Homo sapiens: one gene and its partner. The protein of the gene in region 1 purifies or fractionates together with the protein of each later gene. This does not show direct contact. Each region holds a gene or a part of one and is shown in the gene's direction. Other genes may lie near its edges.

Region 1 (4,262 bases):
GAGGGCTGAGGCTCTGGGCGTGGCATCACTCTCGGTCCCTCTGCTGGGGGCGGCGAGGAGAGTGCAGTGTGTGGAAAGGGATGCTGGGATGAAGGGTGTGCGCTGAGAGGGGGGCGAAAGATGCTGGGGGTCGACTGGGGAGGGGTCTGCAGAATCGCCTGTGCAGAAGGAAGCTGGAGCGAAAACCGCGAGGCGTGAGCACGGGGCAGGGCAAAATACGGGGGAGTCACAGAATGGTGTGTGAGTGAGTGTGTGTGTGTGCGTGTGAGAGAGAGAGGAGTGCTTAGAGTGTTTGAAAGGGGTGTGCAAACCCCCAGAGTGTGGATGCAGATTTTTCTTAGGGAGTTGTTCAAGGGTGGCGTGTTTGGTACTAATGAGGGTGGGGTTATGAGAAGAAGAAGAAAATGCATCTAACCCAAGACAGGAACCCAGAGGAGGATGGCTGCAGGTTGGGTCAGGGAGGGCTCGTGGGTAACAGCAATGTGAGCCTGGGGTCTGAACCTACCATGGCCCACACCTGACAGACAGTAAGCAGAGAACTTTGTGGTTGGGGGAGCAAAGGAAAGAGACAAAGATAAGCCAAGCGTCCTAGGTGAAGGGACAAGGGAGTGTCAAGGGCACAGGATTTCTCTGCCTGAGTGCTTTCCTTGTTGACAGAGGGAATTTGGCCTCCACCTGCTGAACACAGAACTGCGCTGAGGAAGGCACTGGCTTGGAGAAGATGCCAGAGCTCTGCCAGCTGACACTCAGCCTGCACCTTCAGGACTCATGACTTCTTCTGGCCCCAGAGGCCCAGACAGTGGGCATCACCTGGGGTCCTCCTCTCTTTGGGAAAAAAAGAGGCTTCCTGGGGATTCCAGCAGCCACTGAGGCTGAGGACTCTCAGGCTTTTAGGAGGCCCATGGAGACTCACTTCCTCCCGGGCCCTTTTCCCAAAACACCCACCCTGGGACCCCCTTGGACTCCAGCCCACCAGGCCACCAGGACAAATGGCCTCTGAGACCTTCAACACTGAAGACCCAGGTGCAGCCCCGGCTTCCTAATCAGTCCCAGACGTGGGACAGGACTTAAGTTTTCTCAGAAGAAGTGCCAAGGATCTTTAAAGGGCACGTTTCATCTCCTTCAGCCCCTCCCTCCCAGACACAGCACCAAGAGGAAACATCCAGCAGGCATGGGTGAGAGAGACACAAAAGATCTGCAGGAACTCTTCCAGGACTTGCTGGCAGCTGACCTAGCCCCATTCTTGTCCCCTCCCTTTCTCAGGTTTTGATCATCATTCCAGACCCTAGGGGACCTCAACTGGGTGTCTTGCCCCCTAGGCTCCGGAAGGGGACCTCCCGTGGATCTCAGGAAGCCCTCTGGTGCTCAGAGGCTCCTGGGAAAGTCCCTAGCCATGATACCACATGCTCAGAAGCCCCACCTTCACAGACGCTGGCCCCAGATGTAGCTGCCTTCCTGTGTCACAGACTCTCGATTCCATGGACACAGTCCTCATGGGCTCCCTCCAGCACTGCTGTTGCCTGCTGCCTAAGATGGGTGACACTTGGGCCCAGCTTCCCTGGCCCGGGCCACCCCACCCAGCAATGCTGCTGATCTCCCTCCTCTTGGCAGCCGGGTTGATGCACTCGGATGCCGGCACCAGCTGCCCCGTCCTTTGCACATGCCGTAACCAGGTGGTGGATTGTAGCAGCCAGCGGCTATTCTCCGTGCCCCCAGACCTGCCAATGGACACCCGAAACCTCAGCCTGGCCCACAACCGCATCACAGCAGTGCCGCCTGGCTACCTCACATGCTACATGGAGCTCCAGGTGCTGGATTTGCACAACAACTCCTTAATGGAGCTGCCCCGGGGCCTCTTCCTCCATGCCAAGCGCTTGGCACACTTGGACCTGAGCTACAACAATTTCAGCCATGTGCCAGCCGACATGTTCCAGGAGGCCCATGGGCTAGTCCACATCGACCTGAGCCACAACCCCTGGCTGCGGAGGGTGCATCCCCAGGCCTTTCAGGGCCTCATGCAGCTCCGAGACCTGGACCTCAGTTATGGGGGCCTGGCCTTCCTCAGCCTGGAGGCTCTTGAGGGCCTACCGGGGCTGGTGACCCTGCAGATCGGTGGCAATCCCTGGGTGTGTGGCTGCACCATGGAACCCCTGCTGAAGTGGCTGCGAAACCGGATCCAGCGCTGTACAGCAGGTAATAGAGGGGCAGAACGGGGCAGTCAACAGGGAGGGCTTGCCTCAATGGGAAGCAAAGGCTCCAAAGAAAGCGGGGGAACTTAGAGCCAGAAAGCACCTACTGCATTTTCTAATGTGGGCTTGCCTCTTTGTACACCAGCTCGGCCAACAGGTTGTTTGTAGAATCCTTCCAGTGCATGTGAGGCACCGAGGGCCCATTCATTCATTAAATAGATGTCCCTCACCACTGCGCTGCTCATGACCTAATGAGGCAGACGGATAGTAGACAAGTGAGAATAGCCTATGGTTGGTGGTTTTTATTGAGCTTTCACCATGACCTAAGATCTTGGCATCCATTATCTCATGAGACCCCCATTTTTATTATACCCATTTTCCAGGTGAAGAAACTGAGATTTAGAACAATAAAAAGGCTTGACAGGAATCACACACTTAGAAAGTGGCAGGGCCATGAAAAAAATACAAATTAAAAAATTAAAAAGTGGCAGGACCATGAATAAAACCTAGATTTATCTGACTTCTAAGCCCTGTTCTAATCTACCAGAATGCTTTTTTAGCATTCCAAGTGTTGGAAACTCTCGTATAAATAGTAATGACTAACACAATCTCAACAGAGCTGCAATAGCTTAAGTTGCGTGACAGCCAATATGTTCCAGGAGGAACTTGAGACCTTAGTACTTGCTATTTACCAGGCCCTCTCTTAAGCAGCTTTACCTATCTCTTCCTATCCCCAGAAGAACACTAATGAGATTGCCACTCTACAGAGGAGGAAGCTGAGGCACAGAGAGGTTCAGTAGCTTGTTGGAAGTTACACAGCTGCTAAGTGTTGAAGCCAGGATTTGAGTCCTGGCAATCTCCCTGACTATATCCTGAAGAGTCAGGTTCTGGCCTGCCGGAAGAGTCAGAACCTGAGTCCTGGACTGGCCAAAGGGCTGCAGTAGAGTTCCAGGACCTCATGCAGCTCCAAGACCTGGATCTCAGCTACGAGAACCTGGCTTTCCTCAAACTCAAGGCCCTGAGCAGTGTAAACTTTGGGCACAGGGTAGGGAGCTGAAAGGAAGACTGAGATGCGGCAACTCAACCAGCCAATCCCAACTGGAGGGTGGACTGGGGCCTGAAGAAGCCCAAATCACATAGGTTTGATGGGCATCCCAACCCAGTGGCATCTGAGCCTGACCCAGAGGCAGGCAATGTTCAGCTGTGGCCCTAGCCACCAGCTCTCCTGTGTGACAACACCAAGACTTGGCACAAGAACCCAGAAGTAGTAGCTGAAGGCCCTATCCAAGGGGCTTTCCCAGAACCTGAGCTCAGCCCATGTTGAGAAGAAGCAATGCTGAATGTGGTAAAAGGGAGAGGAGGACTGAGTGGGGAGCCCAAGACCAAAATAGTTTGGGGAGGGCTGTGGGTCACGATTCCAGTGTTTCCACAGAGCTGTAGGAGGAAATTCTCTTGCATCAAAATAGCTGGGGACTGGGATGGGGCGATGGTGGAGGGCAGGAGTGGGAGGATGCCTGGAGCAATCTCTCAACTTGCTCAAACTTGGCAGGCGCGCCTTCCCTCTCTCTCCTGTGCACTAATAACAGAAAGGGCACCCAAAGCACTAAGCTTACATTACACCCAGGGACTCCTTTTCTGTGATCTCTGAGGTCCCTGCTGCTCTGAAGAAGCTCAGACTCCCAGCGAGCAGGAGAGGGGTCCAAGATTTCATCAGTGTAGGCTCACACATACATCAGTACAGGTGAGGAACCTGAGCTCCAGAAGGGGACAGTGACTGTCCACAGGCCCATGATGAGGAAGCAAGCAGTCCCAGCTGGAAAGCCAGGTTCCCTGTTCCTCCACAGAACACACTTAACACCAGGCCACACGCACCAGGGTGCTTCTCCTTAGGGACAAAACCTTGCCAGTGGAGGCAGAACTAGGTGATGCTCTTCCCTTTAGGTCCTTTTCAGCTGCTTCCTCCCTTTTTCTTTGCGGAACTCCACTGTTATCCATGGTTTTTGGAAAAATTGAACAAAGAGGGCCATAATAAGCAAGCCCCTGGGATACAGCATGACTTTAGGACTGGTGCCT
Region 2 (3,500 bases), on another chromosome or scaffold:
AAGACCATGAGCCCCCCCTTTTCAGGCAGATGAGTGAATCCCAGCTCTGTCCTCTGACAGCTTGTGTTGCCTTGTCACTGCCTCTAAGCCATGGTTTTCTTACCTGCCTCACTGGGTCATGGGAAAAAGGAACTGAAGTGATACATGTATTCAACTTAATGCCAAGCACATAGGTGTCTGATGAATGTTAGCTATGTTTATTATAATCAGGTAATGATTCCAGAAGGTCTTGATGAAATATATGGCTAATTCATGAAACTTAAAATAATTTAGAATTTCCTTAGCCTATTTATAAAAGTAAGAGAATATTATTAATAATTTTTGAATGAATATTATTTCTCTTTATGTTAATGAATATTAAGATATTATTCATTTAATCTTAACCATGAAACATTTTTGAAAAATGAGCTTGGTTCTTATTTAGATCTATTGTGGAACTTACCACCTAATGTATGTTTCTCCTAAACACACCAATTTTTACTAATATTTATGGCAGAAACCAAAATAAACAGTAATCAACTAAAAAAATACTGTTTCCAGTATTTTTAGTCTTTTTACAAACAAGTAAATTAAATGAACTTGGTCAGTAAAACATGTCACCGTAAGTTTGTAGTGAGACCACATTTAGACTAATTATAAATTGATACATTTTCATGTTAGTGAAACTTATATGGGCTTGACAGTGTTTGCAGAGGCTTTGAAATGATGTTAGGCAGGCTGGTAAGTTCAATGAAAATATTTAACTTTCTATCCCAGAGATTAGAGTTCTAAGTACAGCTGGTTTAATTTGGTGATACAAACCAAATCTTGGCACTGATCATATCGGATACTTATTTAAATGATTCTTGAATTTATGTATGACAGAATTTATATATGACAGAGTGTTTGTGAACCAATCTTCAAGGAATAGCTGGTGACAGTACCCCTCAGGCAGCAAGAAGATTAAATTAGTCACCTGAATTTGACCCTGCCTTCTAGTATTGAAAATCAAATGATGTCCTTGTGATTTTTTTTTTTAACACTTATGTTTACTTTTGGCTACCTGTAAAGTCTCTACCCTTTTAGTTTTTAAAAGCATACAGGCCAGGCGTGGTGGCTCACACCTGTAATCCCAGCACTTTGGGAGGCCAAGGCGAGTGGATCACGAGGTCGAGAGATCGAGACCATCCTGGCCAACATGGTGAAACCCTGTCTCTACTAAAATTACAAAAATTAGCTGGGCATGGTGATGCAGGCCTGTAGTCCCAGCTACTCAGGAGGCTGAGGCAGGAGAATCACTTGAACCCGAGAGGCGGAGGTTGCAGTGAGCCGAGATCACACCACTGCACTCCAGCCTGGGCAACAGAGCGAGACTCCATTTCAAAAAAAAAAAAAAAAGGGTACAGGTATCTGCCTAAGTTCTAATGCATAAGGCAGTTTCTTCAATATTTCTTCAAAGGCATTATTAGCCACTGTATCTGACAGTCACTGTGGTGACTCCTTGAATTAATTTGAAGAATGCCAACGTCTAATGGGAAGTGTCGTCTTACGGTCTAGCAGTCCTGTTGTTCCTGGGGGTTTTGTTCTGTGTGCCAGTTGCTTCTGATTTCCACAGTAGACATTACATTTATTTGTGTGTCTAGTGAATGCTCTTCTCAACTACCATCATCAATTAGAATTTATTTTTAATTTTTAAGCCATAGGTATTCTCATGTGCTTGAGGCACATGTGGTTCATTTTAAACCTACAATTACTGGCTGGATTGTCTTCTTTCTAGTATTGGGTACCCTGTGGTAACTTTGGGGTTTGGCTTCAAAAGTTACGTAAGCTACAAAATGCGGTTAAGGAAGCAAAAAGAAGTACAAAAAGAGAACGAGTTTTACATGCAACTTCTTCAACAAGCTCTCCCTCCAGAGCAACAGATGCTACAGAAGCAAGAAAAAGAGGCCGAGGAAGGTAGGTCTTTACCCTAAAGCTGTTGGCTCAATAGGCTAGTCATTATTTTGTCTCTTGGTAGAATTTTCTTTTCTGGAAAAGTAGCTAGGATTTTGTTTTTTTCTGTCTAATGGTGTTCCTCCTCAGGGTCATTGTTTTATTTGGTCAATGAAATACAGATGGTGAATGAAGTTTTTTACATACTGTCTGAAGACTATGTGTTTAAATATGTTTATTTTATTATTTTAAAATATATTTATATCTTTTTTATATTTTAATTCTGATTTTTTTTTAAATTTAGTTTTTTGAGACAGGGAGGGTCTCACTCTGTTGCCTAAGCTGGAGTGCAGTGATAACAGTTAGGGACCACTGCAGCCTCAAACTCCTGGGAGCAAAGTAATCCTCCCTCCTCAGCCTCCTGAGCAGCTGCTACCATGGGCACGTGCCACCATGCCTGGCTAATTTTTTTTAATTATTTTTTTGTAGAGATGAGGTCTCACTGTGTTGTTCAGGCTAGTCTCAAACTCCTGATCTCAAGCAATCCTCCCACCTCCACCTTCTGAAGTGTAGGGATTACAGGCATGAGCCACTATGCCCAGCCTGTTTTACGTATTTTAAAATATATATTCTCAGCAACAAAATACTATGGAACTATGTGAACTGGTAATTGAAGCAAGCCAAGAACCAAAGTATAAGCACAATGGAGATGTAGACATGTAGAATTGAACTTCAGAAGCCAGATGTCTTCTGAATAGAGCCAAGATGGATAGGTCGTGTTCTAAATGCTTCATATAATGTAATGCAGATTTTAAATTGAACCATTTCTAATGGAATCTCTCTCATGGGCATTTGACCAATAGAAATAGATAATTGGCAGTAGCTAGTTTCCATTGGTTTGAAAGTTGAAAGTTTGAGGTCATGTTTTTATTTAATATATTTCAAAATTTTCTTTTTGTGTGATGTGGTGCAAAAATATCTCTTCAAGTAGACCTTAATAAATTGGAATGTGTAGACCCAATACACAAAATTCTTTCTGAGTGGTCTGGTAAATGATACAGACTTCCTTATTACCTCAACACTAGAGTCCAGAAAAAGGATAGATGTCCTGTATCCTAAAATTATTCCTCTTCTTTTGTTTCATTTAACCTCTTTCTTTTCAGTAAAGTTATTAACAGTTCGTTTACTCCAGGCACTTAAAAAAATATGACTTCTTAGGATCTGCCTTTGTCCTCTCACCTCAGTGATAGGCGAGTTTGATTTGACTAATACACAAAGTGTGACCTAATTATAAAACCCTGATCTTGTTTTCAAGACTAGACCTTTAGTGGCCATCATTTTCATAAATGATGATGATTTTCTAAATGTAGAGTTTCTCAAATGTATTTGGATTTTCTTCTATTTTTTCCTACATCTTCTAGTAAACTATGAGGATTTGCTTCTTGATTAGCGTATAATGAGTGTGCAAACTAATGTGAATTTCTTAAGTGTAGATAATAGTTTGTTGAATTAATCTGTGTTGTTAAACAACTAAATATTCCGGTGGGGGCTTTTTGTTTGTTGGTTTGTTTTTGGTATTGTAGCAGCCA

Evidence for each region. The genes of interacting proteins can lie anywhere in the genome.
Region 2: the proteins of LRRC55 (region 1) and MACO1 purify together in Homo sapiens (affinity purification with mass spectrometry; one large-scale study listed by BioGRID and IntAct). This does not show direct contact.

What each region holds. Positions count from the first base shown.
Region 1 is NC_000011.10:57,180,491-57,184,752, forward strand, and holds the start of LRRC55 (leucine-rich repeat-containing protein 55 precursor), read left to right. Parts: upstream 1-1,462; 5' UTR 1,463-1,532; coding exon 1,533-2,193; intron 2,194-4,262.
Region 2 is NC_000001.11:25,454,897-25,458,396, forward strand, and holds part of MACO1 (macoilin), read left to right. Parts: intron 1-1,756; coding exon 1,757-1,935; intron 1,936-3,494; coding exon 3,495-3,500. UniProt on the Homo sapiens protein: Plays a role in the regulation of neuronal activity.